Linked DNA regions of Homo sapiens. The protein of the gene in region 1 purifies or fractionates together with the protein of each later gene. This does not show direct contact. Each region holds a gene or a part of one and is shown in the gene's direction. Other genes may lie near its edges. The genes, in order: SMAD1, USP9X, USP15 and RUNX2.

Region 1 (7,540 bases):
GATGTAATCCCAAGAAACGTATACTTTAACAACAAAGGAATTACAACAGAAGTACTGGAAACCATCTGCTTGTTCAACTTAGCAAAGACAAAAAACAATTATCCTCTTTTTCTAGACATAACTGTTGGTGTAATGGTTATCAAAATAAATGATTAATAAGGACATTATATATTTTTAAGTTACAGGTTAATGAGCAAGCATCTCCAAAAAAAAAAAAAAAAAGAGTGCCAAATTTCTTGCCAGTAGACTTTAAGAAAGATACCCTAAACAAAAATATACTTAACATCTATTAATGTTTTCGGAAGGGAAAATGACTGGGCAAGTGTGTTTATTGGGCTGCTTGAAATGTTTTTAAGTAAATTTGAATTCAACATCAGTGCTAGGCCTTCAAAAATTGAAAAGTGGTCCACATTTATATTGCTTTCTTTTATTTATGTATTTATTACCTTCTTTTATTTAAATCTTGTTTATTTCACATTGTTTTGTCCGGTTTTCAGTCCAAAGCTGTTTGGGATGAGGGTTGGGAGACAGACTAGTTTAAAAATCAAAGTAACTGGTGACTTCCTGTCTACCTCTCTCCCTTCCTCCTCACCACTAACCTGTATGATGGGCAGGTTAGTGGTGAGGAGATACATTTCAGAAGACTTTTGAGCAGTGGCAGCCCAGAGTGGCCCCAAGATTGAATTAAAGGTTATTGCTTGAATTTACACTTTGTCCCTAAATGTCAGGGATTAAGGCAAAGGCCAAGTAATGGAAATATGGAAAACAGTTGCAAGGGATGGGAGGAGGTGCCTGTAGGAATAGTAGAATAGTATCAAGAATTATCGGGTTCCTCTTGGTTGTGCTGATGCCATAGGTTGCCAATGAAATTTTCACCAGCTTCTTGGCAGAAATTCATTGACTTGGGCTCAGAGGAGGCTCTTTGTCTTTGTTCCTGGCTTGAGATAAAGCCGAGTCAGCCTTACAGCTGCAGAGAAGAGGCTGAATTAAAAGAAGCTGAAAAGGGGCAAAAGAGGCATCCAGAGAAGGTCCCAGTAGTCCCATCTCAGTACTATGAGTTGTTGCTTGTTAGCAGCTGGATGTGAAGTTACCAGGTTGTGATTCAGCTGGAGAGTGAGTCTTGGAAATCACTGGGGCTCTCTGAAGGAACAACATGAGTTGTTTGTATTTGACAGTTGCTCTGAGTGGTCTCGATTACTTATCCAAACATTCACGATTCCCTCAGGTAAAATTTTGTCTCCAAGGCTCTGACACATATGCTAGATGGGCTCATGATAGCTAGTGAGGAGCTTGCTTTTGGATGGAAAAGGATTATTTGTGAGAAACCTATACCCTTTGTTTTATATTAAGAAAATGCAAGACTTGTGTTAGTGTTCTTTGTTTAAAAAATCATGTTTGCCTCTTATTTGCCAGAAGAAACATATATGTAAATTCTGAAATAGGAGATAGCTGTGATAAACTGATTCATTTTCTGTTATTCTGTTACTAGAGATTTTAAAGCTAGTGATTATTTAAATGAGTAGGGAGAGTGTGGTCCTAACAGATTCCCTAAAGTCATGGAAAATTAACAGTTCAAATCAGTAGGCTATAATGAAACTTGGTGAATTTTCTAAAAGCCCATAGATTTAATGCAAAAGACCCTGAAGCTCCTTTTCTTAAGAAGTCCAGTGAAGCTTTCAGAGGTTTTCCATCTATCAGTGAAACTGAAATGCAGAGGTCCTCTCAAAGCAGATTATATTAAAGTGTGCTTAAAATACTCTTCTGATTGCTTTTAAACAGCATGATCCTGCATAGGCAAACAGCTTCTGGAACTGGCATATAGTATAATTCTTTTCCTCCCACTGAATTTTCACAAAAATGTATATGATTGTGGCATGGTTAATACTTTTCAGAAATTGTACATCAAGGCAGTGCCTGTAGCCTTTAGTCTTTTAATGGGGAGATTGAAATGACAACTTGATCTCTTGAGAATTTCAGTACAGAAGAGGATACGTGTTTTGAGCATGTATGTTTACTAAGGGTTAAGAAATAACTTCTTTAAAAACTTTGTAGCTGATACGCCCCCACCTGCTTACCTGCCTCCTGAAGACCCCATGACCCAGGATGGCTCTCAGCCGATGGACACAAACATGATGGCGCCTCCCCTGCCCTCAGAAATCAACAGAGGAGGTAAAACTAATTGCTGCCTGTTCCCTTTTTTAGAGTCTAAAGTTTGTCCAGATGTTACTTTCTCTCACAAATTTTTATTAGTCTTTAAAAAGAGAGCTACTTGAGAAAAATAGAGTCCAATGTTAAGAGAAGCTCACTACAATTGCTGGATAACAAGTAAGTCTTTAATTTAAAGAACAAATACACTGACTTAACTAATGAAGATCTGAGAATAATTTTGCAGTTATCTGTTTAGATCTTTAATACTTAATAATTTTTAACTGATGATGAAAATTTTTTTTTTGTTTTTTTTTGAGACGGAGTTTTGCTCTGGTCACCCAGGCTGGAGCACGATCTTGGTTCACTGCAACCTCCACCTCCCAGGTTCAAGTGATTCTCCTGCCTCAGCCTCCTGAGTAGCTGGGATTACAGGTGCACACCATCACGCCCGACTAATTTTTGTATTTTTAGTAGAGACAGGGTTTCACCATGTTGGCCAGGCTGGTCACGAATTCCTGACCTCAGGTGATCCGCCCACCTTGGCCTCCCAAAGTGCTGGGATTACAGGCGTGAGCCACTGTACCCAGCCAAAAAGAGTATTTTTAAATGAACAAAATGGTATTTAGAAACAATAAGTATAACAGTACTGAAGTAGAGTTTTCACTGGTGATTTCCAAAGTTGGAAGTTGGTATAACTGGGCTGTCCAAAGGCTTTCTTCTGTAATTAGGATAGATACACATAAACCCCGTCTGTTTTTCAGCTCTTATGTATGTGCAACTACAACTGGAACAAACTAATAGAATTTCTTGCTATTTGTTTCTAACTTTGTTACTAAAAGGAATTGAGGCACAAGTTTTTCCCCTTCTCAGCCTGAAGAACTTGCAAGCAGAAATGAAAAATTTCTTTCCCCCTTTAGTAAAGGGTGGGTCTTTGATTCCAGCGCTGTATATATCCTTAGCAGTGACCGAGTGGAGGATGCCATCATTCTTCCAGCTCTACATAGGCAAGTAGGATAGACTTAAGTGAGCAGAGAACTCAGGTAAATAAGTTCGGTAGACTCTCTGAGAAATCTGTTAGAATCCACAGCCACCCTGGCAAATAAAACTGCTCCTAAATAACCTCTCATGAAAGAAAGTGCTTTGCTGCTGCACTCAACACATGGCATGGGTCATGCAATTTATATAATGTTTATGCAAATTGAAGTTAAAGTACAGTTTGGTTACTAGGTATGTCTTGTTTCATTTTAGTGCTTTTTTATTAAAATAGGAGATACTTATTAAAATAGGAGTTGCTTATATTTTTAAGTACTTAAAATTGATTTTGTCTCTATGACACATTATACAGTGGTAACTGCATGTCATTATACATTTATCCAAACCCATAGGATGTACACCATAAGTGAACCCTGACGCAAACCGTAGACTTTGGTTGTAGGTCTGTAGGATGAATGTCGGTTCATCAGTTAAAACAAATGTGCCACTCTGGTGGGGGATATTAATAATGAGGGAGGCTAGGAAGGTGTGGGGGTGGGGGGCATATGGAAAATCACTCTGTCTTATACTCAGTTTTGCTGTGAACCTAAAACTGCTTTAAACATCGATTTAAAAACTGGTGATGAAGGCTGGGCGCGGTGGCTCACGCCTGTAATCCCTAGCACTTTGGGAGGCCGAGGCAGGTGGATCACCTGAGGTCAGGAGTTCAAGACCAGCCTGCCTAACATGGTGAAACCCTGTCTCTACTGCAGATGCAAAAATTAGCTGGGTGTGGTGGCGGGCCCCTGTTGTCCGAGCTACTTGGGAGGCTGAGGCAGGAGAATCACTTGAACCCAGGAGGCAGAGGTTGCAGTGAACTGAGATCACACCATTGCACTCCAGCCTGGGCAACAAGAGCAAAACTCAGTCTCAAAAAAAAAAAAGAAAAAAAAAATTGGTGATAAACTCAAAGGACCTTTCTTGGATGTGCAGTGTCATAAATTGGAATGTACACCACTTTAATCATTATGATTTTTTAAATCTTTTTTATTGCCTCTGTATTTTATGGTTCCTGATTATCTCTTGAACATCTTATCAAACATAATTCTGAGTCAATGAACACTCTGGTTGGGGGAAATAACCCCTATCTCACACATCTGTGGAATTTATATTTGGGGACCAGGATACCAGGAGAGAATAGGCACAGTACCACACTATTAGGAGCATGTGGACCCAGTAACTATTATTACTAAACCCAAAATGTCTGATTTCAGGAAACAGATCTTTAAATTGCTTTAAGATTTTTTTCATTTAAATAGCTTTAATTTTTTTTTCCTTTATAGTTTATAGTCAGTTAATATTTTCACGAGGAAGGAATGTTGGCCATTTTTTTTCTTCCCCCCGCTTTTTTTTTAACTTGTTTTTAACCTTTGGTGATTTTCCTAGAGCAGGGGTGAACAAACTACAGCCCACAGGCCAATTCAGCCTGCTATCTGTTTTTGTAAATAAAGCATTATTGGACCACAGCTGTATTCATTCATTACATATTGTCTATGACTGCTTCTGTGTTACAAGGGCAGAATTGGATAGTTGTGATAAAGATTATACAGCCCATAAAATCTTGCTGGCCTTTCACAGAAAAAATTCATCAACCTCTGACCTAGATGAATAGTATTTTGAAGTATCCTGATAGCTGATAAAAGCCTTCTGCTAATAATGTTGCAGTCTGCTTTAAGATTTGGCACTTGTAAATCACTAAAGTTTTGCTCTTTGAATTATAGCAAATTGATGTGGTAGAGTTGCTTAGCAAGCAGGGAAGATAGTGTATGTTTTTAGCTAACTACTTACATATGTAAAGCGACTAACTTATGTGTGGGTTTTTTCATGAGTATTTTCCTTGTTTTTTTTTTGTGTGTGTGTGTGTGTGTGTTTGTTATTGTTGTTTTGTTTTTTACCAAATTCTAAAGTAAAGTGCATTTTAGTATTTGTGGAATTTGATGTTAAGAACACAGAGGTGCTTCTCCCTTAGCAGTTGTAGTCTGGGCTTCTGATGTGGACTTTCTTTCTTTTCCTCCTTTTATTATTGTACACCCAAGACTTCATAAACCTCAGATCATTATATATTGGTATGCTGGAAATATATGGTTTGTATTCCTGGAATCTCTAAAGGAGTGGTACAAGAGGTTTTACTACAGAAGGAATTCATCTTTAAAACCTTTTAGTTGCAAATGTTTAGAACCATGTTCTGTTTGGAGATTTGTTAGTCTTAAGAGATTTGACTTAACAAGCTGCATCCTGTCAGTAAAGTTGGGTAATTTCCATTGTTGGCCCATTCTGGGAATGGAGAGACAAAACACACCTGCTCTGCATGACTTAAAGCAAATATAAGGAAGTTAGCATGAAATCTGGATGAGAAAGATATGATTCATTCTGTAAGAATGGCCAGCTGGCAAGATTTCTTCCTGAGTTTGAGAACTGGAGCAACACTGTAGCTGTGATAGTTATTGGCAACTTAATATGAGGTAAAGTAACTTCTTATCAATAATTAGAAACTGATTTTCATGGCTTTGAATAAGCATAGGCATACTTAGTCTTTGCCAAAAGTAATTCATTTTTATGCCAGTACCTTTGGCATATTTTCAGTCTTCTATTGTTCTCTTCCCACTTATTTTTTCACTTGTCACTTGTGTTTCTTTAGATGGTGAGCCAAAGTCTGTGGTAGGGGTGATTTCCATTTCTGCATATTACAGAGCAATTAGCATATTGTTAATATTCAGCAAAAGTTTTTGCTGTGCTTCCTTAGCTGGTGTTTTGGTTATCTGATAGTAATTGGAGAAAATTGTTCTCCAATTTTCTCCAATTAGGAGAATAAGGAGAGTGTCATATTAAGAAGTACCTGCTTTAAACATCATAGAAAAACTGTATACATTATAATAGCAATTGCTTTTCCAGTGTCTTCATTCCATGATCCTGAGCCAATTCAACAACACGGTTTCAGTTTTTGAGAGCCTGAGGCACTAACCTTGGTTGATATAACATTTTCTTTCCTCTAGATGTTCAGGCGGTTGCTTATGAGGAACCAAAACACTGGTGCTCTATTGTCTACTATGAGCTCAACAATCGTGTGGGTGAAGCGTTCCATGCCTCCTCCACAAGTGTGTTGGTGGATGGTTTCACTGATCCTTCCAACAATAAGAACCGTTTCTGCCTTGGGCTGCTCTCCAATGTTAACCGGAATTCCACTATTGAAAACACCAGGCGGCATATTGGAAAAGGTGAGTTTTTGCTTTAACCTCTTTCAGATGTTTATCTGTTGTGTCCCTGTTCCTCCAGAGCTGACTTAAAATCATTCCTGTAACAAACTGTTGTAGCAAAGACCAGGTAATGTTCACTTGCTGCAGTTTGTAAATATTTTTCCAGTTTCTGCTATCTGGAAGCTCTTGCAGTCAGTGATTTTTGTGGTCGATCAACTCATAATATTGAAATTAATTAGTTGAAATTATGATTTGCCATTTTAAGACACTATTCTGTATGATATTTTGCTGCAGAATAAATTGGCTGTTATAAAATGAATCACAACCTAAAATTAAAAGCAAATTACAGTTAATTGCTTAATTGTATTTCAAATGAATACCATAACTCAGTAAATAGAAAAGAAAGAACTAGATTTTAGCACAAACATCGTGCAAGGTGGCACGATAGAACCCTGCAGTGATTGTACCCCCACAGGGACACCAAATTGAACAACTGTCCATATAAGACAGCACCTTCAAAAGAACAAAAAATCAGGCATGGATATATTTATAATAAGAAAAAATAAAGACCAAAAAACAAGCCTAGTAAGTTATGAATATAGTAAGTGACTATATATCCTCAGCCTAGGCTGAGTGGAGTAGATAGAGTAGGGGTAGGATTTCAAATAAATCCCGAACTCTTTTTAGTAAACTTGATTATTTCATAGCAGTATGAGTGAAACCATTCTGAAACTTTCATATGTAAAGATGAAGCAAATGACTAAATGTGTGGATATTGTTGGGAGCTTGGGTTTCCACTGTGGAAAACAGACATATAAATGCGGAGGGGAGCAAAAAGTAAACCCTGTGAAGGAGAATAGAAGTATCAGTGCAAAATTCTGATTTTAGTAATACATATGTGTATGTATGTATGCATGTTTATGTTCTCATGTATTACGTATGTGTGTATGCATGGGTATGTATATGCGTTTTTACTTGCGTATAGTTTCTGATCTGCCTGCTGAAAGGGCCCAGAAGCATACATACCCAGTAGCAATAAGCACATCTAGTGTTCAGATCATCATCGCTAATACCATGTCCCACTAAAAGGAACTAGGGCTCCTTGAAGAAATGGCTTACCCCTAGGCTGGGATAGGTAGGCATAGGAGGACCCTGGAGCATCTTGT
Region 2 (7,540 bases), on another chromosome or scaffold:
CACAGTCTTGGCTCACTGCAACCTCCGCCTCCCGGGTTCAATTGATTCTCATGCCTCAGTTTCCCCAGTAGCTGGGACTACAGACATGAGCCACCACACCCGGCTAATTTTTATATTTTTAGTCAAGATGGGGTTTTGCCATGTTGGCCAGGCTGGTCACAAACTCCTGACCTCAGGTGATCCGCCCACCTCAGCCTCCCAAAGTGCTGGCATTACAGGCGTGAGTTACTGTGCCCAGCCTAAGTCTTTTATTTTTAACTCAAGCTACTAAACATGCTTCTTTCCAAAAGTCTGGTTTCAAAAACTAAAGGTTCATGGAATGAATCTTTTATTCCTAATTCAGCTAGCTGCATTTCAGGCACAAAGTGGGTGTTCAGTGTGTGCTTGTTGAATTAATTAATATCTAGTGGGGATTTTTTTTTAGTACCAGATAAAAGTAGAGAAATAGGTTATTTTGAAAGAATGAATATCTTTTTATCTATAGTTAAAATATAATGGTGATAAATGTATTTTATAGGTAATACAGATTGCCTTTCCGGATAAAAATTACATAAATCTAATTGCCAATTTTCAATGTTTTTTCAAGATTTTTATTGAAGGATGGTCAGCTGTGGCTATGTGCTCCTCAGGCAAAACAAATATGGAAATGCTTAGCTGAGAATGCAGTTTACCTTTGTGATCGTGAAGCCTGTTTTAAGTGGTATTCCAAGTTGATGGGGGATGAACCAGACTTAGATCCTGATATTAATAAGGACTTCTTTGAAAGTAATGTGCTTCAGCTTGATCCTTCTCTGTTAACTGAAAATGGAATGAAGTGTTTTGAGCGATTCTTCAAAGCTGTGAATTGTCGAGAAGGAAAACTAGTAGCAAAAAGGAGAGCCTATATGATGGATGACTTGGAGTTAATAGGATTAGATTACCTTTGGAGGGTAAGTCAAAAGTAGGAACTCTGTAAATGGTGTCTGATGTACTTTTTCATGTACGTAAGGAATTGTAATTTTGCATATAAATTGTGTATTTTACTCTGATGTTTGTCTCAGGAATTTGGTGTAGTTAGGAATTGTTCATTTTTATTATGTCACCTGTCAGTGGGCTTTTTCTTCTCTCTTCCTCTCCCTCCTCCTGCCACTGATGTTCCTTTTGTCTTAGCTTAGTATCTGTGTATTCCATAGATGTGCACTAAACATACAAATCTTTCATTCCTCCCCCGTGGATATTAATGTTCCTTCCCGAGTTTTCATTCAGTGTCGATCTGTTTCCTCCTCTTCAATGTTTAACACTAAAATAGAGGACAGAAGAGAGGACTTGTGTTTAGTATAGATTATGAGTATATGCTTTATTGGCACTGTTTACCTTGTGATATTTTTAAATACCTGGGGGAATAAAATACTATCTTTTTAAGGCTAATCTATTTTTATAGTACTACTCTATTATGCCTATCTTTAATCTGACCTGTTATACAGCAGTTTATATTGTTTGGATGTCTCACATATTTTCCTGCAAACCATAGATAAAGATGTTTATTGTGGCATTTGAGTATTTAAAAGCTTTTAATTAAGTATGTGGTTTTCAACATTGTTTTAACAGCAGAAACACATCTTAAAACTCAAAATTTGCACCACACTACAAAAGTAAACTGAATTGAACAAGGAAAATATGTTTTCTTACTTGGTCTCCCCATGCTTATCCCCTTTCCCCTCCCCAACCCTTTTATAGGGGCCAACACTGAAACACTTCCTCAAAGTCCCCTAGGGTTCTGAACATAGTTTGGAAACCACTAATGTAATTAGATGAGTGATAAAGATTTATAGAAACTGGGGGTAGAGTAGTCCTTTATGCTAAACTGTGTTTCATGTAATCTCTTATTTCCTGTCAACTAATTTGAATTTCTTCTTGAGTGTCTCACTTGGTTATCAAGATATTAAATTATAGGGTTAAATAATAGTGGTCAAAGCGTATTTTATTTTTACAAAAATGTACCTTTCATTCTTAAATTATTCAGAGACTTTCATTTTGCATTTATTACCCTTTCTTTTGGTCTGTGCTTCTCACTTAATTTTACTTGATTATCAAAGTCAACTTACCATTAAATCATTGAATAGTGTGTTTAAGATAACTGAGGATATGGTTTGAATTTAAATGCCCAACAAAAATATATGTTGAAAGGGATGAATACTTTTATCATTTTGAAACCAGGTCGTGATTCAGAGTAATGATGATATTGCCAGCAGAGCTATAGATCTCCTCAAAGAGATATACACGAACCTTGGTCCAAGACTACAAGTCAATCAGGTGAGGATTGATGTGCATTAAAACTTCCATATATAATTCTTTCGGCCCCCATTTCTCTTATACAAAAGAGAAAAAATATTATCTAAATGAATCTTGCCTTGTTAGTTGTCTTGAAGTGATTGGGTTATTTTTAATATAACTATTTATTAGATGTTGAAATGGCAAAGAAAGTCTATGTGAATTCATTTTGATGCTAACACCTAATCCTGAAGTTCACTTTTGACTAATTTATGTTTGTTAACTTATGTAATGCTAGCTTCCTTTTAATAAACATACATTTTATTATTGTATGGATTCTCTACTTAAATATGACTGTTGTTAATTGAGTGCTACAATTAAATCAGCCATTGCCATCTTTAATTGGATTAATATTTGGTTTTTACATTTTAAAGCAATTTTAACTGTGTTTATTTGGCCTGATATTTGTAGGTGGTGATCCATGAAGACTTCATTCAGTCTTGTTTTGATCGTCTGAAGGCTTCCTATGACACATTGTGTGTTTTGGATGGTGACAAAGACAGTGTTAATTGTGCAAGACAGGAAGCTGTTCGAATGGTTCGAGTATTAACTGTTTTAAGGGAATATATAAATGAATGTGACAGTGATTATCATGAGGAAAGAACAATTCTCCCTATGTCGAGGTTTGTGAATAACTAATCTATTGGTGCTAATTCTTAATTATTTGATATTTTCCTAGCCATTTGGTAAAAGGAGAGCAGAAATTTTTCTCGTTTGAAAATTGTTGTCTTTGCCCATTAAAAACATTTTCATTTCATCTAATTTTTTTTAATAACCTCCCCCACTCTCCCATCTGGTTTTGTTTTGGTTTTTTGGGTGAGGCATTCTTAAGTTGTTTTCTAGTTTTCTTTTTGTCTTTGACATTATTACTCATTAAGTGTTGCAGTGGCATTTTGCAGTTGAAGTGTTTTTGTTTATTTGTTTATTTTGAGAAAAGGTCTTATTCTGTCACCCAGGCTGGAATGCCGAGGTGTAATCATGGCTCACTGCGGGCTCAAGCGACCTTTCCACCTCAGCCTCCCAGGTAGCTGGGGCTACAGGCACAGGCTACCACACCTGGCTAATTTTTTTTGACTTTTTGTGGAGGTGGGGTTTCACTACATTGCCCAGGCTGGTTTCAAACTCCTACGCTCAAGCAAATCCTCCTGCTTTGGCCTCCCAAAGTGCTGGGATTATAGGCGTGAGCTACAGTGCCTGGCCTGTAAAGAGCTCTTAAAAGCTGCCTTGCATGGCATATAACAAATATTTTCAAATGGTGTTTATAGTTTTGGGATGTTTTGTGTAGTCAATGCCATCATTTTTTTTAAAGAGTTTTGTTTATTAATCATGAAATTATATACAGTTGCTTCTTGAATATGATTTTTATTTTGTATTTTACTTTAAAAAAGGTACTATACCAATATAAATAGCATTTTGGAGTGAATTTTGATATGAAGGCTTTTTTCCAGAAAAAAAATAAAGTGCATTGTGGCATTTTTGTTGATGCTTTTAACAAAATGTAAAACGACCTTTTAAATGTAAAAGGTAAACTCTACCTTCTTTTTTTGAATTTTTTTTTTTATTAATACAAGGTCTACCTATGTTGTCGAGGCTGGTCTTGAACTCCTGGGCTCAAGGGATCTTCTTTGCTTGGCCTCCCAAAGTGGTAGGATTACAGGCATGAGCCACTGCGTCCAGCCAACCTTTTACATTTAAAAATAGTCTTAGTGAGTTGGGCTTTTACAGCATAAAAATAAGCGTTATATCTTGGATTTAATTTCATTTTAGTAGACACCTCATTTTCTGCAACCATAGATACAAGACTAACAACAATAGAATATGATTATGTTTTTAAATATTATTTATATTTTTAGTTAAAAGGAGCAATATTTTTTTTTCTTTTGCATTTCACTCTTGTTGCCCAGGCTGGAGTGCAGTGGTGCAGTCTCGGATCACTGCAACCTTTGCCTCCCAGGTTCAAGCGATTCTCCAGCCTCAGCCTCCCAAGTAGCTGGGATTACAGGCGCCCACCACCAAGCCTGGCTTATTTTCTGTATTTTTAGTAGAGATGGAGTTTTACCATGTTGGCCAGGCTGATCTCGAACTACTGACCTCAAGTGATCCACCCGCCTCGGCCTCCCAAAGTGCTGGGATTATAGGCATGAGGCACCATGCCTGGCCTTATTTTCAAGATACTGAAAGTAATACAGGTTGAGTATCCCTAATCCAAGAAATCCAAAATTTGTCTGGTCCCAGACATTTCATATAAGGGATTCTCAAGCTGTATTAAGTATCTTTAATTCACATCCTCTTGTTTAATAAGAAAATACTTAGTGTTAAATCCCCAGCATTATTTTCTTGGCAACAAAATTTCAGAGTCTGCTGAATATGATGATGTCTGTCTTTCTTTTTCCCCCCAGAGCATTCCGCGGTAAACACCTCTCTTTTGTAGTTCGATTTCCAAACCAGGGCAGACAGGTTGATGACTTGGAGGTATGGTCTCATACAAATGATACAATTGGTTCAGTACGACGATGTATTCTCAATCGTATTAAAGCCAACGTAGCCCATACAAAAATTGAGCTCTTTGTGGGCGGTGAGCTGATAGATCCTGCAGATGATAGAAAGTTGATTGGACAATTAAACTTAAAAGATAAATCGGTATGTATGTATAGTTAACAGATTTTTCAATAAAATCAAACCAGAGACTATCGTTTAATCAGTAAATACTAATTGAGCATTTGTTATGTTTGGGACTGTGTTAGGTGTTAGAGTTATAGCATTAAAGTATAGCATGTAGTCTTTCGGATTTTTTGGTTGGTATATCACTAAGTTTTGTGTTTTGTGTAAGTATTTTTCCTTGTTTTTGATATTAACATAGTATATAATTTTCAGCTTATTACAGCCAAACTTACACAGATAAGTTCCAATATGCCTTCAAGCCCTGATAGCTCTTCTGATTCCTCCACTGGATCTCCTGGAAACCATGGTAATCATTACAGTGATGGTCCCAATCCAGAAGTGGAAAGCTGTTTGCCTGGAGTGGTGAGTAGATACAGTTTTGAACTACTGTATGTAAGGCATCATGCTAGGGTTTTTGAGAATAAAGTATATAGAGTGGTTCTTTCTTTTCTTGAGGAGCTTACAGTTTAATGAGACAAAAAAATACAGTTAACCACCAACTTCAGAATGGATCCCTCTAAAAGGTAATTGTAACACAGTTGGAATTTAAAACATAATTTCCCCATAGGTATAGTATTGTTACTTTTACATAAAATTAACCAATTAGAGCTTAATTATAACACTATTGGATGTATAAATTTAGAGGAAAACAGTCATCCCTCGTATACGTGGAGAATTGGTTCCAGGACCTCTGCATATACCCAAAATGCTGCAGATGACCCTGTGCAACCAGATATACAAAAAGTTAGCCTTCCATATACTTGGGTTTTGCTTGCTGGAAATACTGAATTTTCTGTCCACATTTGATTGGGAAAAAAGTCTGCATGTAAATGGACCTGTGCAGTTCAAACTTGTGTTGTTCAAGAGTCAGCTGTATCACTTTCTAAAATTTATACCACAAAACGGATAGTTCTTTTAGAACTATATATGAGCTGGGCATGGTGGCTCACACCTGTAATTCCAGCTACTGGGGAGGCTGTGAGGCAGGAGGATTGCTTGAGCCCAGGAGTTCTAGGCTGCAGTGAGCTGCGATTGTGCCATTATGCTCTAGCCTGGTCAACAGAGTGAGACCCCATCTCTAAAAATATAAATAAATGAAAACAAGAACTATGTAGGAAAATACCTGTAATCTTTATCAGATTGTCAGTAACATATAGCCAAAGAAATATTTTTAAGCTCTCCTTTCGCCCCTCCCGACAGAAATTTTAATGGTTACAATAGTAGCAGCCACTCCAGTGTCAGGAGGATTTGGCTCTCTATAACAACTGGATTAAGAATTTGGTAGTGGGCATGGCAGCCTTTTGTTATGTCCAGAGTCTAAATTGTATATATGAGAGAAATGGTTTAATAGAACAGGAGAGGAGCTATCACAAAAAAATGACTGGAAGTGACTTGATGATGTATTTGATCTGCACTATTAAGGATTTGTAGGGATTAAAAGATGGGAAAGTCAGACTATTTCAAAGAGTAGAAATTTCATAAGTAAAAGTATAGGGATTAACACAGAGAAACTTACTTGGGCTTTTATAAAACGGGAGTAAATAATTTAGAGGTAATTATTTTGTGTATTTTATATTCTAGATAATGTCACTGCATCCCAGATACATCTCTTTTCTTTGGCAAGTTGCAGACTTAGGTAGCAGCCTAAATATGCCACCCCTTAGAGATGGAGCAAGAGTACTTATGAAACTTATGCCGCCAGGTAAGAATTTTTAAATGATGATCAAGTACTTGCTGGACAATAAAGGAGTATATTAGCAAATTCTGTTTCTAAATGGACCGTGCTTTTTGGTATAGACTATAACAAGAGTTGACAGATGACAGCCCACAAGCCACATCAAGCCCCCTGCTTGTTTTTGTGCATCCCAAGAGCTATATTTTTAAGTGGCTACAAAAAAAAAATCTAGAAGAATAATATTTTGTGATACATGAAAATTATATGAAGTTTAAATTTTAGTGTCCATGATCAAAACCAGGCTCATTTGTTTACATTCAGTCTACATGACTGCTTTTGTCTTAAAATAGCACCGCCCAGGAGTTGTGGCAGAGGCCATATGGTTCACAAGCCTAAACTGCTTAACTTTCCTGGCCCTTTACAGAAAATGTTTGCCTATACCTGGACTATAATATGGGTCATGTGTCATCTGCGGTATTGTTCCTTTTTTATCCTTAGAAACAACCACTTCCAACTTCTCGCTTTTACTTTAGTATATATATGTACCATTATGTCTGGAGTGTCCTCATACAGCTATTTCTTTGTTACTTACAGATATATACTGATTTTCTGCTGTGTAGATGAAAACTTAACTGTTACATACCCCCACATCCTCCCAGTATTTGCTTAAATCCAGATTCAACATCTACGTTTCCAAGATTGTTTGAAATATAGTTCTCTAGATCACTGACAACTTTTATCCTGGATTTAATAATTTCCCTTTTATTTTCCTGATTGTACACCTATCACTTATTCTTCCCACATACTTTTTTTTGAGATATTTTTTATCTGAATGTGGGCAAACTATCACGTTTGATTAATGGTTTGTGTATAGAATCCTAGGTTTGAAAATAT
Region 3 (7,540 bases), on another chromosome or scaffold:
ATTGTTAAAAAAATGCCTACTTAATTATATAGGTGAAACTTTGAGAAGTTTTAAACTTGTAGAGAGAATAAGCAGTTTTAAGTCGTTATTTATACAAGTAATTTAAATGGCATTGATAGAGGACATCTACTGGACAACATTTTTTATTAGCTATATACTAGTTCTTAGAAAATAAAAAACCAGCAAATCAAAATGCCTCTGTATTGTCTTCCTTAACATTCTAAACTTTGGACAAACTAGTCCAGACAAACCATCTCTCAGCTCTTACTAGCATTCTAATTGGTTTTATTTTGGTAGATTTTCTCTCTTAAAATTATGTGTAAATAGGTTCTTTATGTGTGACTTTTTTTCTGTCAGATGATGATTCATACTATTACATTTATTTTCAGTCTCATCCAAAAACAAAAATACTTAGTGATGAAAGATTAGGAAAATTGAATATGAACATTAATGTTTCTGTTATCTCTGTGATACTCATCCTCCTTTTGCGCATAGAAACTAAGTGAGAGCCTAGAGTAGTTATCTTAAAAATGCTTTCAGATACGTAATTATCTTTATGTGGTAATATAGCAAGGATGAGAACCTGCCTCTTCCTGTCTACCTACCAGACATTTATAGGAGGAGGCAATAGGAATACCTAAAGCTAAGAATTAAGGACATCTGGAAAATCCTTTGACAAATAGTGAAACAACAATTAATGACAATGAAATCTATGACCAAACAAAGATCAATACATTTTTATATATTAAAGATTACATGTGTTGATCTATTTTGTCCCAGATAAGCTTTGTTGAGTGCTTACTAGGAATGCAAAACAAAATATAATTCATATATATTCCTGTTGTTCGTGTATACAATTTTTATTATTCACAGGAGTTATGTTCAATGAAGCTGCCACAAACACTGAAATAACAACTACTGAACCATTACTCCTAGGGAAACTATAGGGTTTGATTCCTCCAAGCCTTTGTTCACAACATTTTCGTCAACCAGACAATGTATAACTTTGTTTTGCATGTGTTTCTGTTTAAAAACAACTTGTTTAATATATATTGTTGAGTCCTTAACATTGAACTCACAGCAAACAGTGCTATAACTCATGTCTTAATGAAGCATATCTAACACATACTTTTTCTCCATAAAGCACATCACAGCTTTCTTGCATTTAGGAACACTAGCTGGCATGTTTGTACTTCATTTAGTGACCATTTTAAACACTGAAATTAACAACAAAACAAACAAAAATGTGAAAAAACATAACACTAAATAAACTACAAAGGACACTTGTTTATAGATTCAGAGCTGAAACAACAAGCCAAAGCATCACCTTGTTCAACCCCAGCTGGTAACATGCATATCAGGTGACTCAAATTTTTTGCCACTCTGAAAATATCTACAAATGACCATGAATTGATTTTGGGGTTACAAATACATTTTAGAAAGCAGGCAAATTCACAAATGTGGAATCCATGAATAATGAGAATCTATTGTACATATGTTTAAAAATCAACCCTGTTCCTAGAACTGATTTGATGGTTTTGCATTTCTTACAGACACAGGTAGGACGTTTTGCACCTCAGTTCTCTGGATATCAGCAGCAAGACTGTCAAGAACTGTTAGCTTTCCTATTAGATGGATTACATGAGGATTTGAATAGAATTAGGAAAAAACCATATATACAATTAAAAGATGCAGATGGAAGGCCAGATAAGGTAAATTTCATGATCCTATTGTCACCATTGTTATAATTTTGTGATACCTCTTTCTAATTTGTGTCTATTATCCTTGTAGGTGGTTGCCGAAGAAGCCTGGGAAAACCATTTAAAACGAAATGATTCTATCATAGTAGATATATTTCATGGCCTTTTCAAATCAACTTTAGTTTGTCCTGAGTGTGCTAAGATTTCAGTAACATTTGATCCTTTTTGTTACTTGACACTTCCATTGCCCATGAAAAAAGAACGCACCTTGGAAGTTTACTTAGTTAGAATGGATCCACTTACCAAACCTATGCAGGTAAATCATGGGTTGGTTTGTTTTGTTTTTTTTTTTTTTTTTTTGCATTTGTTATTTTTATTAAAAAATTAGTGTTGAGTCCTTATTATAAAAATTAAGTATTGAATTATCAAGCCCAATCAATAATGTTTATTTGTATAAGAGATTTTATAAGCTGAATACTTTGGAAATCAGTGTAACTTTTTACAGTCTTGAAAGAGCAACGTGTGTCTTATAAAAAATTCTCAAAAGGCTTTTTATAGAGGTTTATTTTTATAATATTGGGGTGAATATTAGCTTATGAAGATCAACATAATATTTTTAATTTTTTTAAACTTCAACTTTCTTTAGTGTTAATTGTAATTTTTTTTTACTAGTGGCTATTGGAAGTAAAGCTAATACTTTTAATTCATAGTGTGATAGTAGTGTATTTAAATACCTGTAATTTTTAGGCATTTTAGGAACTTAAAAGAAAGTAGAAATTCAGTTAGACTAAAAATATTTTGTTCAGTGATGTTCTCTAATTTCTAATACTTTGAAGTATCACATATTGTTTATTCTGTGCAAAAGTCCTGTGGTAAGTCTTACTGTCAAATTGTCTGCCTGATTCCGTTACCTAGTGTTATAATTGGATTATTTATATTTTGTGGGTAAAGCACTATCTTTTCTCCCTTATTTATTAATCAGTTAATCCTCTTCTGACACTTGACCCATCCCAGTGAAAGTAACTTCTTCTTTTTCTACCTCTCTTTCCCTAAATTCTAACACTTAACTAATTTTGTTATAACTTTTGGCTTACTTTTATCTTTTATCCCTAGACTACAAGTCTTTGAAGACAGAGACCTTGTAAACCTTTGTATTTCCAGCTTTTGTGGCTGGTAAATATTAATGCACAAGAAGTATTCAAAAATTTTATTCATCAAGATACTTAACTATGCACCTACTAAGTATAAAGCTCTTTGGCTAAACAAAAAAGATATGATTCCTGCTTTAGAAGATTGTTTTCTGTAAATTTTTAGCCAAATAGCTCAGTTTGTTAGTGCATAATAGTCACGATGTCTATATGAAAGCTATATTTGAACAAAATTATGATCTTACCATTCAGGGATGTATTTGGGTTTATTGTCAACAAAGACAGGGTATATGTAGTGTTCATAAACACACAGTCCTTTTATTCAAAGTAATTAAAGTCTAGTAGATACTAGGTATGTACTCAGTTATGCAAATTTAAGCAATTTGTTTTTCTGCTGCTTTATGTTTTCTTTATGAACTCATTGAACACAATGCCCTCATATCAGTATTTCACTGGAGAGTGCTAAGTACTATCCCTTATCTGTGAGCAGAGCCAATAAAGACCTGCTTTTACTTTTGGCCTGGGGAATATGTGTTCACATTTTTAAAGTTATATCCTTTAGATATTCACTTATTCACTCGTTTATAAGTACAAGATTGTCAACATTCTTTTCAATGGTGAGAAACTATAACAGTGCCAAACCACATCCTTACCTCTCTAGTTTATAACTTTGCAGATATACACCAATGAGTGTAATGGAGCAAGAGAGCGTAGAATAATAAGTATAAATTTACTGCAACAAAAAATAAATGTAGATGTTTTATTTCTCTACAGCACATTTGTTAGAGATAATATTCTCCCATGCCAATAATATAAGGTAATCTATATCAATAGTGGCAAATTGCATTAATTTACACATTAGTCCATAAGGTATATGATAAGTGCTCTTCCATAAATTGGGCTCTAAATTATTTTTCCAGCAATGTGAATTTCATTGACTTATCACTTTTCTCATTTGGTGACCAATAATATAAATTTGCGGAGGTTAGAGCCATGGTTAGCACAGAGAAATTCGTTTGTTTTTGTGTTTTGTGTTTTTTTTTTTTCCTTTTTTCCATTTAGAGGCAGTAACAACTCAAATACAAAATGATCACCTCATTTCATTAACACTATGCTTTGACCAGCTTGTAAGAAAAGTGAAATTAGCTGAGTTTCCCTATTTGTTGAGTTTTCCCGTCATTGAAGTTGATTTAGGTCATGGAAGCTTATTAGGAAAAATATTGAATATATATTATATCTTAGGCTCTTATGCTGTGCAAGGTGCTAGAAATATAATGGTGTTTCTAGTCCTTGTTCTTCAAGAAGCTTGTCATACAGTGTGAAAATTGCTCTGACAGGGTGCTGCAAGAGAACACAGAGTAACCTACCCAAACTGGTTATGAGGCCTGTGATAAATTCTGAAGGACAATTAGGTTATAAGCAGGTGAAAACTAGAAATAAAAGCATTATAGGCCAAGATAATGGCATGTACAAAGAACTTATGGGAGAAGAGGACATGGCCCACTTCTGTAATCTACAGTAGTTAATATGGCAAGCAGGAGCTAGATCACGAAGAACTTTGATGCCAGTATAGGAAGTTTGAACTTCATCCTAAAAACTAGGGAAGCCATTAAAGACTATTAAGTATAGATATTATATGGCCACAATTATGTTTCAGAAAGATGATTCTGGGTAGCACAGAGATCAGTTAGAAAAGGCTTAGTACTAAGACCAGGTAAGAAGCTTTTAATGATCAGACGACAGACAAATGACAAACACTTCAACTCTGTCAGGATGGCAGTTTGAAGAACCAGTTGAATGTAGGAAGTGAAAATGTGTAAGTATATTCAAAGATGATGCCAAGTTTACTTGACAGGAAAAGAGGAGACAGCAGTGCTGTTTTAGTGGAATATATAGGAAGAACAAGTTGAAGAAGGAATCCATTTTAGTATTGAACGTGGTGGCCTAACATGACCCAAACCTGTGTTTAGTATTGGATATGCTGACTTACAGATGCATGAGGAACACTTAGGTAGAGATATCCAGTAGGCATTGAATTTGTGTATCTAGACCAAAGGAGAGAGACTGCTTTAGCTATAAATTGGACAATCAGCTCTATGAAAATGATAGTGTTTTAGAAGGATGAGATTACTTAAGGCTAAGGTGACCCCGTGATTTATCATCTAAACAAGAACTCTTGAAAATAGAAGGGACTGTCATTAATAATTATACTAGGATAGCAGGCTAATCCAGGACTGGCCAAAGCAAATCAGGAGACACTGTTGCCTCTTCCAAGGAGAGCATATAAAATTGAGAAGAAGGCTAAAGACAACACTCTAAAGAACAATGTAGGAGAACTTCAAAAGAGGAATATGATCACAGCAATAGAAAAGAATTAAAAGTAGTCGTGTTATAAGGAAAGGGAATTTTTTAAGGAGAAAGTGGTCAGCAGTCATATTACAAAGAGGTCAATAAAATAAAGACTGATAAGTTGTACAACATTATTGGCAACCTTGGAAACAAGTTAAATAAAGAGGCGAAGACAAGCCAGCAAGAGGGTTGAGAAGTAAATGGGAGATAAGGAAGTTATGATAATATAGATATCATTAATAAAGTTATTTATAAAATAGAGGAGAAGGGGAGATAATTAGAGGGAAAGCAATGAGGTACCCTTGTTTTTTGAGAGACTTTATATTCCAATGCTTATGCAAGAGTTGAGATAAAATGGAAGAAAGAATAATTGCTTGGTTTAGGTCCCAGAGAAAGCAGAAGAGCATGGGATTTAGAACATAGACGCTAAGGTTAGCTTTGAATAAGAAGAGAGACATCTTTCTTTCCATGTGTTGCAAGAGACAGAAAAGTACCTATGTGGATTCAAAGAAGTTAGTAGAACAGGAAGTTGGAGATTTTCCCACCCAGTAGTTTCTGTTTTTGAGATGAAATAGGTATTCTGCTGATATTAAGGGAGCAGTAGTGAAATAGGAAGCCTAAAGAATGGTGAAGATTTTTTTTTTTTTTTTTTTTTTTTTGTTAATGAGACAGGGTCTTGCTCTGTCACCCAAGTTGGAGTACATTAGGGTGTGATCTCAGCTCACTGCAACCTCCGCCTCCTGGGCTCAAGGGATTCTCCCGCCTCAGACTCCCAAGTAGCTGGGACTACAGGTGTGCGCCTCCGAGCCCAGCTAATTTTTTGTATTTTTGTAGCAACAGGGTTTTGCCATGTTATCCAGGCTGGTCTCGAACTTTCGGGCTTAAGCGATTCACCTGCCTTGGCCTCCCAAAGTGTTGGGATTACAGGCGTGAGCCACTGGGCCCAGCCCAATGAAGATTTTAAATAGTTATTGAGATAAATGAGAGAATAACCACATGTGTGATATGCAGAATTATTTCTGAGTACTGTCAAAGGATCAATTGATATTGGGCACTGTGGATTTGTAGCACACCAGCCTCTAAAATTGGGAAATTCTCTTCAGCACATGTGAACAGCTCTGAGAAAGTTTAGCAAGAGTGGAATGAATAGAATTGAGTAACAAAGACATTAAAGGTTCGTGATAAAGCATGTAGGGCCTGGATGGAAGGGCTAGAAGACAGTAGGGAGCTGGTAAACTGGGAGAAAACAAGAGTTAAAAGGAATAGAAATCTCTGTGCAAGACAAGAAGAGATAAGAATGAATTTCCAGGAGAAGCAAGAAGTAGTGGTTAGACAGTAACCCGAGTTTAAGATACTAAAAGTGGGGCCGGGTGCAGTGGCTCAGTCCTGTAATCCCAGCATTTTGGGAGACTGAGGCAGAAGGTCACTTGAATCCAGGATTTTGAGACCATTCTGGGCAACATAATGAGACCTTGTCTCTAAAAAATAAAAATTAGCCAGTCATGGTGTCACACGCATGTAGTCCTAGCTACGCAAGAGGCTGAATTCGGAAGATGGCTTGAGCCCGGGAGGTTGAGGCTGCGGTGAGCCAAGATCATGCCACTGCACTCCAGCCTGGGCAACAGAGTGAGTGAGAGCCTGTCTCTAAACAACAAACAAAAAAAGATAGCAAAAGTGGGAGCAGTTTCAAGTAATGACAGGATCTAATAAGTTGACTGAGGTTGAATTAATGCAAGTGTCTTTGAATTGAGGAGCCAAGGAATGATAAAACTAGGACAAATTATCCATGTGGGCATTGTCACACAGGACCCAGGATAGTGGCAAGATTGGAGACAAACACTAATCCAAATGCCAAATGAATGTGAGATAGCAACCATGAGGTCACTCTCATTTACTGAATTTTTTTTCCAAAATAATAAATTCATTACAATTTTTTTTGTTTTTTAGTACAAAGTGGTTGTCCCCAAAATTGGAAACATATTAGATCTTTGTACAGCATTGTCTGCTTTGTCAGGAATACCTGCAGATAAGGTAAGATGTTTCTGGGGTTGAAGTATATAAGTTGGTATTTAGTTTCTCAGTGCTGTAAAACCAGCTTAATAGAAATTCGTTTCCTTTTAGATGATAGTTACTGATATATACAATCATAGATTTCACAGAATATTCGCTATGGATGAAAACCTTAGTAGTATTATGGAACGGGATGATATTTATGTGTAAGTATAAAACTCATTGTGCAAAATATTACTTGAAAAAAAATTAATAGAAGTAACATAAAATTTTGAGAGTTTATGGTCAGTTTTGTCCTTGTAGGTTTGAAATTAACATCAATAGGACAGAAGA
Region 4 (8,270 bases), on another chromosome or scaffold:
TCACATTTTTGCTTTAGAATAACCTCCCTACAGTAAAGCACATAGACTGATAGAGCAAGCCATTAACATGAATAAAGAGCAAGAAAAACAATTACTTGAAAAAGAAATATGCCTCAGTGGACAATTCAAGTCCCACCCCCAACTTGGCAATAAAAGACATCTTAAAACAAATTGTAACGAAATATACATGACTATACTAAAAGTTTAGATAATGACAATGAGTATCTCAAAATTTAACTTATTTTTCCAAGTGATAATATCCTCTAATCCTATTTAATACTAAAAGAGTTCAATTGAAAGAGAGGAGATTTTCCTTTTGTACCTTTTCCAAGAAAGCTAATATACAAAAGATTCTCATTATAGGACAGTTTTACCTACAGCCATGTTCCATAGCACAAAGTTACAGCAGTGTTCCAACGTATACTATAATGTCCTACAGTTTCATTTACTATATTCTCTAAGTACAAAGGTTCTAAAAAGATTACTTTCACTTCTCCCTAGATACGTTAAATAGCATAGCTGGGATATTATTTTTCTTTGGTTTTGTCAGTAGCATGTTTGATATAAATTATATTAAGTGGTAGTGTATGTAACATTGCATTGTGGGTAGTAGTTTCCTGCTTTAGTCTAGCCACATCCTCAGCTGTCATATGAGCATGTTTCCCATATTTTCTGCAAGTTCTCGCCTTTTTTTATTATTACAAAAATGACAGCATTCAAAGATGAATTGTTCTAATAATTACAAGAAACATGAATTACTTATACAGCTACATTAAACAAGTATGGATCACTCTGCACTTCAAAGAATAATCAAAGAAAAAAAAGTAATCCTCATAATTAAAGTGTTAATACTATGTGAACAATGTATTAAAGTAAATTAGCATAAAAGGATTCAAGAAACAATTAAAAACAGCTGAAAGAAATTAAGTCTCTATAATCAGATGCCAATACTATCTAACAACTGAGGCATTACATATTAGAATATAACAATTTCTAATGAATGTTAAGAGCTCCAAATCTACCGAGTATTCATTAGTGAGGATTAATGTCAATATCCCCTACTAGAACTTAAGAATCTACTTTGAGGCTGTATAGAAATGAGGGAAAAAAGGAAGAGAACCCAAAAAAGCCTGAAGGAGAAAGAAAGGGAAAGAGGAGGAATGGGGGAGACAGGTAGAGGGAGAGAGATTGGTAGAGAGAGAGAGATAGGGAGAGGGAGGGAGGGAAGGCAGGAGAGATTGACTTAGCATTTTCTCTTCTGGCATTCCACATAATCTCACATTTAGACAGCTGCTAAAACTAATCAAATGAAGTTGTTCAAACAATCAGGGAAATGGTGCTAGTTTGGGTTTTTACCTGATCTAATTAAAATAAACTGAGAAAAATGCTCTTATTACAAAAAGTACTACAAAACAATGCCTTGTATACATACGCAATAAGACAAATGTGCATGCAGTTGTGTACATAAACATATACCCCATTAAACAAGGAAATGGAATACTGCACAGTCACCATAATTTAACAGATGAAACTATACATATTTTACTAACAGAAGTAGTCAATATAAGGCCAAATAGATCCCGTGTAAGCTTAAACAGCTATACATCAAATCCAAAAAAAAGAAAAATTGTCAAAAAAAAGTAAAATAAGAAACAGTCACATACCAAGATGAAACAATAAGTTAAAAACTTCCTTCGTAAAACCTCATAATCAGAACATTTTAAGCCAAATTAGGACTTCTAAAGTTTAAAAATTCCTGCATCAAACCATTTTCTCCTTTGTTTTTCAAAGAATGAGCAGCAAATAAAAGAATAGAGTTAGCAGCAAATAAGTCTAAAATAATCCTTAAAAAAATGCATAGAAATGAGCACAATATTGATAAAGTAAAACTAATGTATTAAAATATGATCATTAGTTAAGAAAATAAAAAATTACTCAAATGGTTACAATGAAGACACACATAGCATTTAAACACAAATACCTTGGTATTTTCAAAAGTTCAACCAATTCTAACACATTTTATTCACTACAAAGCAATGGAGAAGCAAGATACCAACAACTTTTTTTCTTTGAAATTGATTTCAAGATCAAAACTGTATTTCATTTCCATGGCATTAAAGTATGTGATTTATACAGTATACCTAAACTTGTTGCTTACTTCAAAACAGCAAATACTAACATGTCCCCAGAGAGGATAAAATTTTATGGGTCTTTAAAAAGCAAAAATAAAAATAAAAATAAATCTGTGGTTTTCAATTTCTGATTATAACCATGGTATAAATCTATAATCAAGAGCTTTATTTGCATTGACTTTTCTAAATCAGTATCTCTTCACCACGTGTAGTAAGCTATTTCTAATGAAACACACTGTTATCAAATGTGTACCAATTATCAAATGTGCCCCAGTTGTCATTGTTTTTTAAATTTTTACAACAAAGTAATATTTGCTCCAAAGAGGATATATTTTCGTTTTAGGAAAAAAATTCATGTGGATAATGAATATACTAACTTAAAGCACATGATTTCACTATCTTTCTCCTGCTAGAATTTGATAGGCCTCACAGAGGACAAAAAGTGCATATATAACAATATCTACTAAACTCTCAAATCCTGGTCCAAAAATTACATGCAGGAGGATTACCTGCAAAAAGTGAACAGGTAATTAAATGACAAATAGATGTTAAAAATTACTTAAATTCTTATCAGGTCAATTTGAAGAGCCAAAGTTTACATAAAGAAGATTTTAAGGAAGAAAATAGCAAAATGTTGGGTTTGTAAGATGTTTCAGTGAATGCTAATGTAGAAACTATAAGCTTATTTGAAAAGAAGAAAACCATTTGCTGATCATACTACAGCAGCTACCTACATATTTTCAATTAAGTGATTCTGCTATTATAGGTACACATGAAACCATGTTTGGAAATCCCACAAGCTATAAGGACAAAACCCTCCTTTTGTTTACTTTGGATACTAATTAGAGATACAGATAATATGGATACGACTTATTTATAAAAGAGAAAAAATAATTTTTCTCTCCTTCACATGAATAACTGCATGTTAAATGAACGCTTTTACCTTTCAATGTAAAATCTGTTTACACATACAATAAGGCATGATAAATCCATAGTTAAAATAAAACACCAAAATGTATTTCTGGTTTTTTATCACTAAAAGTTTATTCTGAAAAGGTTCTGGACATTTGAAAAATAAAGGACTAGAATCATTCCCATACCCTACCAGTGTATTTTGGGAAAATCAAATTTTCTGTAAAGAAACTTATGAACATATTTGTACAGTTATTGTGATCTAATATGAACCAAAAGCAGATAATGAATAGCACTAGGAAGAACACAGGGATATTTTAGTTCTAACACCCTCCTGTCTCCCTAGCCCTTACCTCCCTGCACATTCCAAATAATCTTTTGTAATTCACTGTCTCCGCCCACCCCATTTACTTTATGCCACTCCTAGTTACTGTCACACTAGGAAGAAGTCTAACATGCAGATTTAGAGTGGCATGGATAAATGGCAAAAAAATGCCTAGAAAATTGGTCTGTTCGCCTTTATAATTTTGGTTGAAAAATACTCCATCGCTCCCAACTGATGAAAACAGGAAGCTCTATTCATAAATATAAAATTCACTGCCTATGATATATAATCATCCTAATAAGAAAATGAGTTCTATACATACTTGTCCAAAGGGGCAAAAAAGGAGATAGTTTCCCAAAGATGTTTCCAATTTTCTTCTGAATCAGAATTAGCAAATCGAGACGACTAACATACTCTGTCTGTGGGCATTATTCCTTACTACACACAGCATTTTGTAATTTATTTCAAAGCTTCCATTAGAAACAAAAAAATACATAGCTTCTGTTAACCCACTCTATTCTAAGCTCATAGAATCAAATACTGAACAATCTACATTATAACATAAGCATTTTACTTTATAGAAGATCTGCTATCAGAAACTCTATTAATGTCTAAACTACTTAAAGAACTATATAAACTGAATACACTTCAATGAAAGACAAAAAATATTACAATCATAAAGAAAACTAAGATTCATCCAATAAACTATATTACAATCCCTGTCATTCATTTTTTTAAGATCTTCAAACTAGGCATGAGATAATGGTATACATGAAACATTACATTTAATCTTTATTGTAAAGGCCGCCATCTAATAGATTGATAATAAACTAGACAGACGTGATTTAAAATTTGTAAAAGAATGCCCAGACTAACACTTTCATGACAGCCAATTATAGTCAAGCCTAGCAAGCAGTTTGCAACCAGACCTTAAGGTAAACTTTTTTTTTTTTTACAATGAGTTACAGATTCACAAGTTTAAGAAGACAAGAAAAAGGAAAACAGAAGGAATCCAGCCACCCAGCAAATATGAAGCAGACCCCAGAATGTGATACAGTCCAAAGATGTGAATTATTGTATATCATCACTGTTGTTCAGAATTTCACACAGACTCTTGAGCCAATTTTGTTCATTTTTCCACAGACACAATAATGAACTAAAAAGAGGAGGCAAAAAGGCAGAGGTTGAGCGGGGAGTAGAAAGGAAAGCCCTTAACTGCAGAGCTCTGCTCTACAAATGCTTAACCTTACAGGAGTTTGGGCTCCTTCAGCATTTGTATTCTATCCAAATCCTCATGAGTCACAAAAATTAAAAAGCTATATCCTTCTGGATGCCAGGAAAGGCCTTACCACAAGCCTTTTGTGAGAGAAAGAGAGAGAGAGAAAGAGCAAGGGGGAAAAGCCACAGTGGTAGGCAGTCCCACTTTACTTAAGAGTACTGTGAGGTCACAAACCACATGATTCTGCCTCTCCAGTAATAGTGCTTGCAAAAAAAAGGAGTTTTAAAGCTTTTGCTTTTTTGGATTGTGTGAATGCTTCATTCGCCTCACAAACAACCACAGAACCACAAGTGCGGTGCAAACTTTCTCCAGGAGGACAGCAAGAAGTCTCTGGTTTTTAAATGGTTAATCTCCGCAGGTCACTACCAGCCACCGAGACCAACAGAGTCAGTGAGTGCTCTCTAACCACAGTCTATGCAGTAATAGTAGGTCCTTCAAATATTTGCTCATTCTCTTTTTGTTTTGTTTCTTTGCTTTTCACATGTTACCAGCTACATAATTTCTTGACAGAAAAAAATAAATATAAAGTCTATGTACTCCAGGCATACTGTAAAACTAAAACAAGGTTTGGGTATGGTTTGTATTTTCAGTTTAAGGCTGCAAGCAGTATTTACAACAGAGGGTACAAGTTCTATCTGAAAAAAAAAGGAGGGACTATGGCATCAAACAGCCTCTTCAGCACAGTGACACCATGTCAGCAAAACTTCTTTTGGGGTAAGTGTTACCATTTTTAAAATCCTGTAAGATATGAACCTGTTAAACATAAAGGTATGATTCTTTGATAAACTGCTAGCTTTTCCAAATAGCATATTAAAGATCCTAATTATGCTATCTTGTTGCATTAAGAATTGAAAAATGAAATTTCTGTATATATTTGCATTTGGTATCTGTAATGTATCTAATTTTCAAAGTAATGACTTGAAATATACAAAATTAAATTATCTCACATTGATCAAAATGTTTTCTAGAGTTATAGAGGTGAGGATATGAAAACAGTAAAAGAAACAGTTTAATACTCTCATTAACCCTCACCAGAAGAAAAGTCAGATCCTAAATTAATCAAAGCATTATAAATTATTGACTCCGGCAGCTCCCAATATTTGAGCAAACTTCAAAAAGGAAGCAATTTTACAAAATAACAGACCACAGAATTATCTCAACATTATGGTCTACCATGTATAACACAGAAATAAACCTGTAGTACAGTTAACATTTTAACCAGCTCAACTAAAAGAAATCTACTTATAAATTCAAACTGTATCCTATCTAAATAAGTTTGTTTCTAAACAACTTTATATAAGTATACATTCAGCTGAAATAAAATTATGATAAGCACATCACAGCCATTTTTAAAAGATCTTTATAGTTGCCCAGGATATTAAAAAGTTCATGGAAGTATTTTAAAACTTACATGCAACTGCATTTTTCTATGTAATTTTAATTTTACATCTACACACTGTTATCCATAGACCTTGTTATAAACACACTGAAACACTGAAACGTCTAAGATTCTTTTAATCACATTCTTGGACCTACCAAAATGAATAACTGCTGTTTAGTCTCATGAAAAATAAAGCTCCATAAGGATACCCTGTATGATTTTTAAAAGCCACAACTATTAAACCATGCTGGACTTTAAAAGAAGTAGGCATAATCTTGTCCCTTAATATTTAATTTCAAGTTACTGTTGATACAGATATGTAAATGACTTTAACATTCATCAGCTGATGTGTTATTATAGCAAAATATCTAAACACACTTACAAGATTCTCTTTATGATCTCCAACATGTTCCAACTACAAGGCAAGTTTTCAAAAATTTTTCTTATATCCATTAAAATAAACCTTCTTGCTGTGTACATCTATATTAACTCTGCTTTTAACTTACAACTAATGACTGGAGTTTCCTTTACTCCTCCTACTTCACACATTTTAACTGGATACTACTAGAGGATCAGTCTCAGTTTAGGTCAAACAGAAATAATTAAACCTGAAGGGAGAAAAAATGGTTTCTCTTACAGGGTGAGGAAATGTACTTTGTATTTTACAAAAAAAAATGTAAAATTGCTTTAGTGACTCCCTCAATAGCTGTAAGTGGGCCCCCTCAGTTATAATATATACAATATAATAATCACAGATTAATTTAAAATTTTAATGATGGGTACCAAGTATTACTCTAAAAACTTCTATATTAAGGAAGCAGGACATAAACACAGCTAGACTACATTACAACACATAGCATAATTACAGCTTATACATCGAAAGTTTTGTTACTACTACCCAAGAGATAAAAGGAAAAAGAATAGTTAAAACTACTGTTACACAGAGGGATAACTTGAAACAGGGATAACAGAGATATCAGGGAGGGATAACAGAGGCAGTTAAGTTACTCTTTCACGTTATCACTCTGTTTAACTATTTATTTTAAACACATTTTAAAAACCAGATCAGGAACAACACAAGTTTCAAAAAATTCTTCAGTATTAGAAGTAAAGTTATCATGAAGAATATGTTAAAATTCTCACAAAGAATATATTAAACTGCTTCTTATTCTATCATAACAGGGATCTTATACTTCTGTAACATTCTTAATAACTATTCAAAATTTCCAAAACTTGACAGGATTCTAAGCAAGGCATGGTAGTGAACCTTTTTTTTTTCCAACATTACAACCAGTTCTTCCTCTTTTGAAAAGTGGGCTGCACCTTCCCTCCCCGCCAGCCCCCAAACAGTATCTTGAAGCCTGAATAGAGAACTTAACATCAACCCACTACCTCAGACTAATTACAGGTGAGTAGTGGACATCATGTATATGTTATCACATTGCAAACATTTCCCCATTCTATAATCTATGCAAAGCCTAAAACCTCACTTCAGGCTTTAGATTTTTATATAATGATTATCACCACCACCTAATGAAATGTCTTAAGTATGTGCCCCAATTTTGTAAAATAGTTAAAAAGAAAGTTTAGGATTTTCCTAGGTGAGGTACAAAGCACACATTAACAACTGCTTCACCTCAAATACAATGAGTGGTGTGTGTGTGTGTGTGTGTGTGCGCGCGCGCGCGCACATGCTAGAGAAAGAGTATGTCTGTGTCCTTGATCTCTCAGCATACTTCACTTTGAGTTAATCAAAAATTTTCAATCTGTACTACTCAAAATCTGTCCATCATTTATCATAAATATAGCTTGCTGAAAATCACAGATGTGACTCATAGAGTATCTTAAAATTAATGACTCATGAAAATATATCAGCTGACTGATTATCTACATAAAATCTTTGTAACTGCTTGAACATGATGTGTGAACACTGATTTCCAAAACAGCAATTGTGGTCCATATCAATAATATATTTATAGTTTCAAGATTCAGTAGTGACAAAGTTTTATAGCTTCTTTTTAAAATACAGAGCTAAATTCCAAAACTAGGGAGCAGAATTACAAAGTTAAGAACAAACACAGAAAATCACTCTAACACATATCAAAAGCTAAAAATGTCAAAGTAATTCCCAAAGACTCATATAAATTATTTTAAATTATAATAATCCTAATTTTACATTACAAACTGTTAAAGATTTTTAGTTTTTATTTTTAAAAAATGTTTTGAAATCTAAAACACTGA

What was found.
Region 2: the proteins of SMAD1 (region 1) and USP9X purify together in Homo sapiens (affinity purification with western blotting; 2 studies listed by BioGRID). This does not show direct contact.
Region 3: the proteins of SMAD1 (region 1) and USP15 purify together in Homo sapiens (affinity purification with western blotting, with the first as the bait; 2 studies listed by BioGRID). This does not show direct contact.
Region 4: the proteins of SMAD1 (region 1) and RUNX2 purify together in Homo sapiens (affinity purification with western blotting; 3 studies listed by BioGRID). This does not show direct contact.

What each region holds. Positions count from the first base shown.
Region 1 is NC_000004.12:145,540,530-145,548,069, forward strand, and holds part of SMAD1 (mothers against decapentaplegic homolog 1), read left to right. Parts: intron 1-2,052; coding exon 2,053-2,169; intron 2,170-6,173; coding exon 6,174-6,395; intron 6,396-7,540. UniProt on the Homo sapiens protein: Transcriptional modulator that plays a role in various cellular processes, including embryonic development, cell differentiation, and tissue homeostasis.
Region 2 is NC_000023.11:41,165,286-41,172,825, forward strand, and holds part of USP9X (ubiquitin carboxyl-terminal hydrolase 9X), read left to right. Parts: intron 1-586; coding exon 587-929; intron 930-2,196; coding exon 2,197-2,292; intron 2,293-2,721; coding exon 2,722-2,933; intron 2,934-4,709; coding exon 4,710-4,950; intron 4,951-5,184; coding exon 5,185-5,334; intron 5,335-6,552; coding exon 6,553-6,673; intron 6,674-7,540.
Region 3 is NC_000012.12:62,382,287-62,389,826, forward strand, and holds part of USP15 (ubiquitin carboxyl-terminal hydrolase 15), read left to right. Parts: intron 1-1,553; coding exon 1,554-1,712; intron 1,713-1,791; coding exon 1,792-2,016; intron 2,017-7,144; coding exon 7,145-7,228; intron 7,229-7,318; coding exon 7,319-7,413; intron 7,414-7,496; exon of another isoform or gene 7,497-7,510; coding exon 7,511-7,540. UniProt on the Homo sapiens protein: Hydrolase that removes conjugated ubiquitin from target proteins and regulates various pathways such as the TGF-beta receptor signaling, NF-kappa-B and RNF41/NRDP1-PRKN pathways.
Region 4 is NC_000006.12:45,323,423-45,331,692, forward strand, and holds the start of RUNX2 (runt-related transcription factor 2), read left to right. Parts: upstream 1-4,907; 5' UTR 4,908-5,038; exon of another isoform or gene 5,039-5,073; intron 5,074-5,238; 5' UTR 5,239-5,304; coding exon 5,305-5,362; intron 5,363-8,270. UniProt on the Homo sapiens protein: Transcription factor involved in osteoblastic differentiation and skeletal morphogenesis. Essential for the maturation of osteoblasts and both intramembranous and endochondral ossification.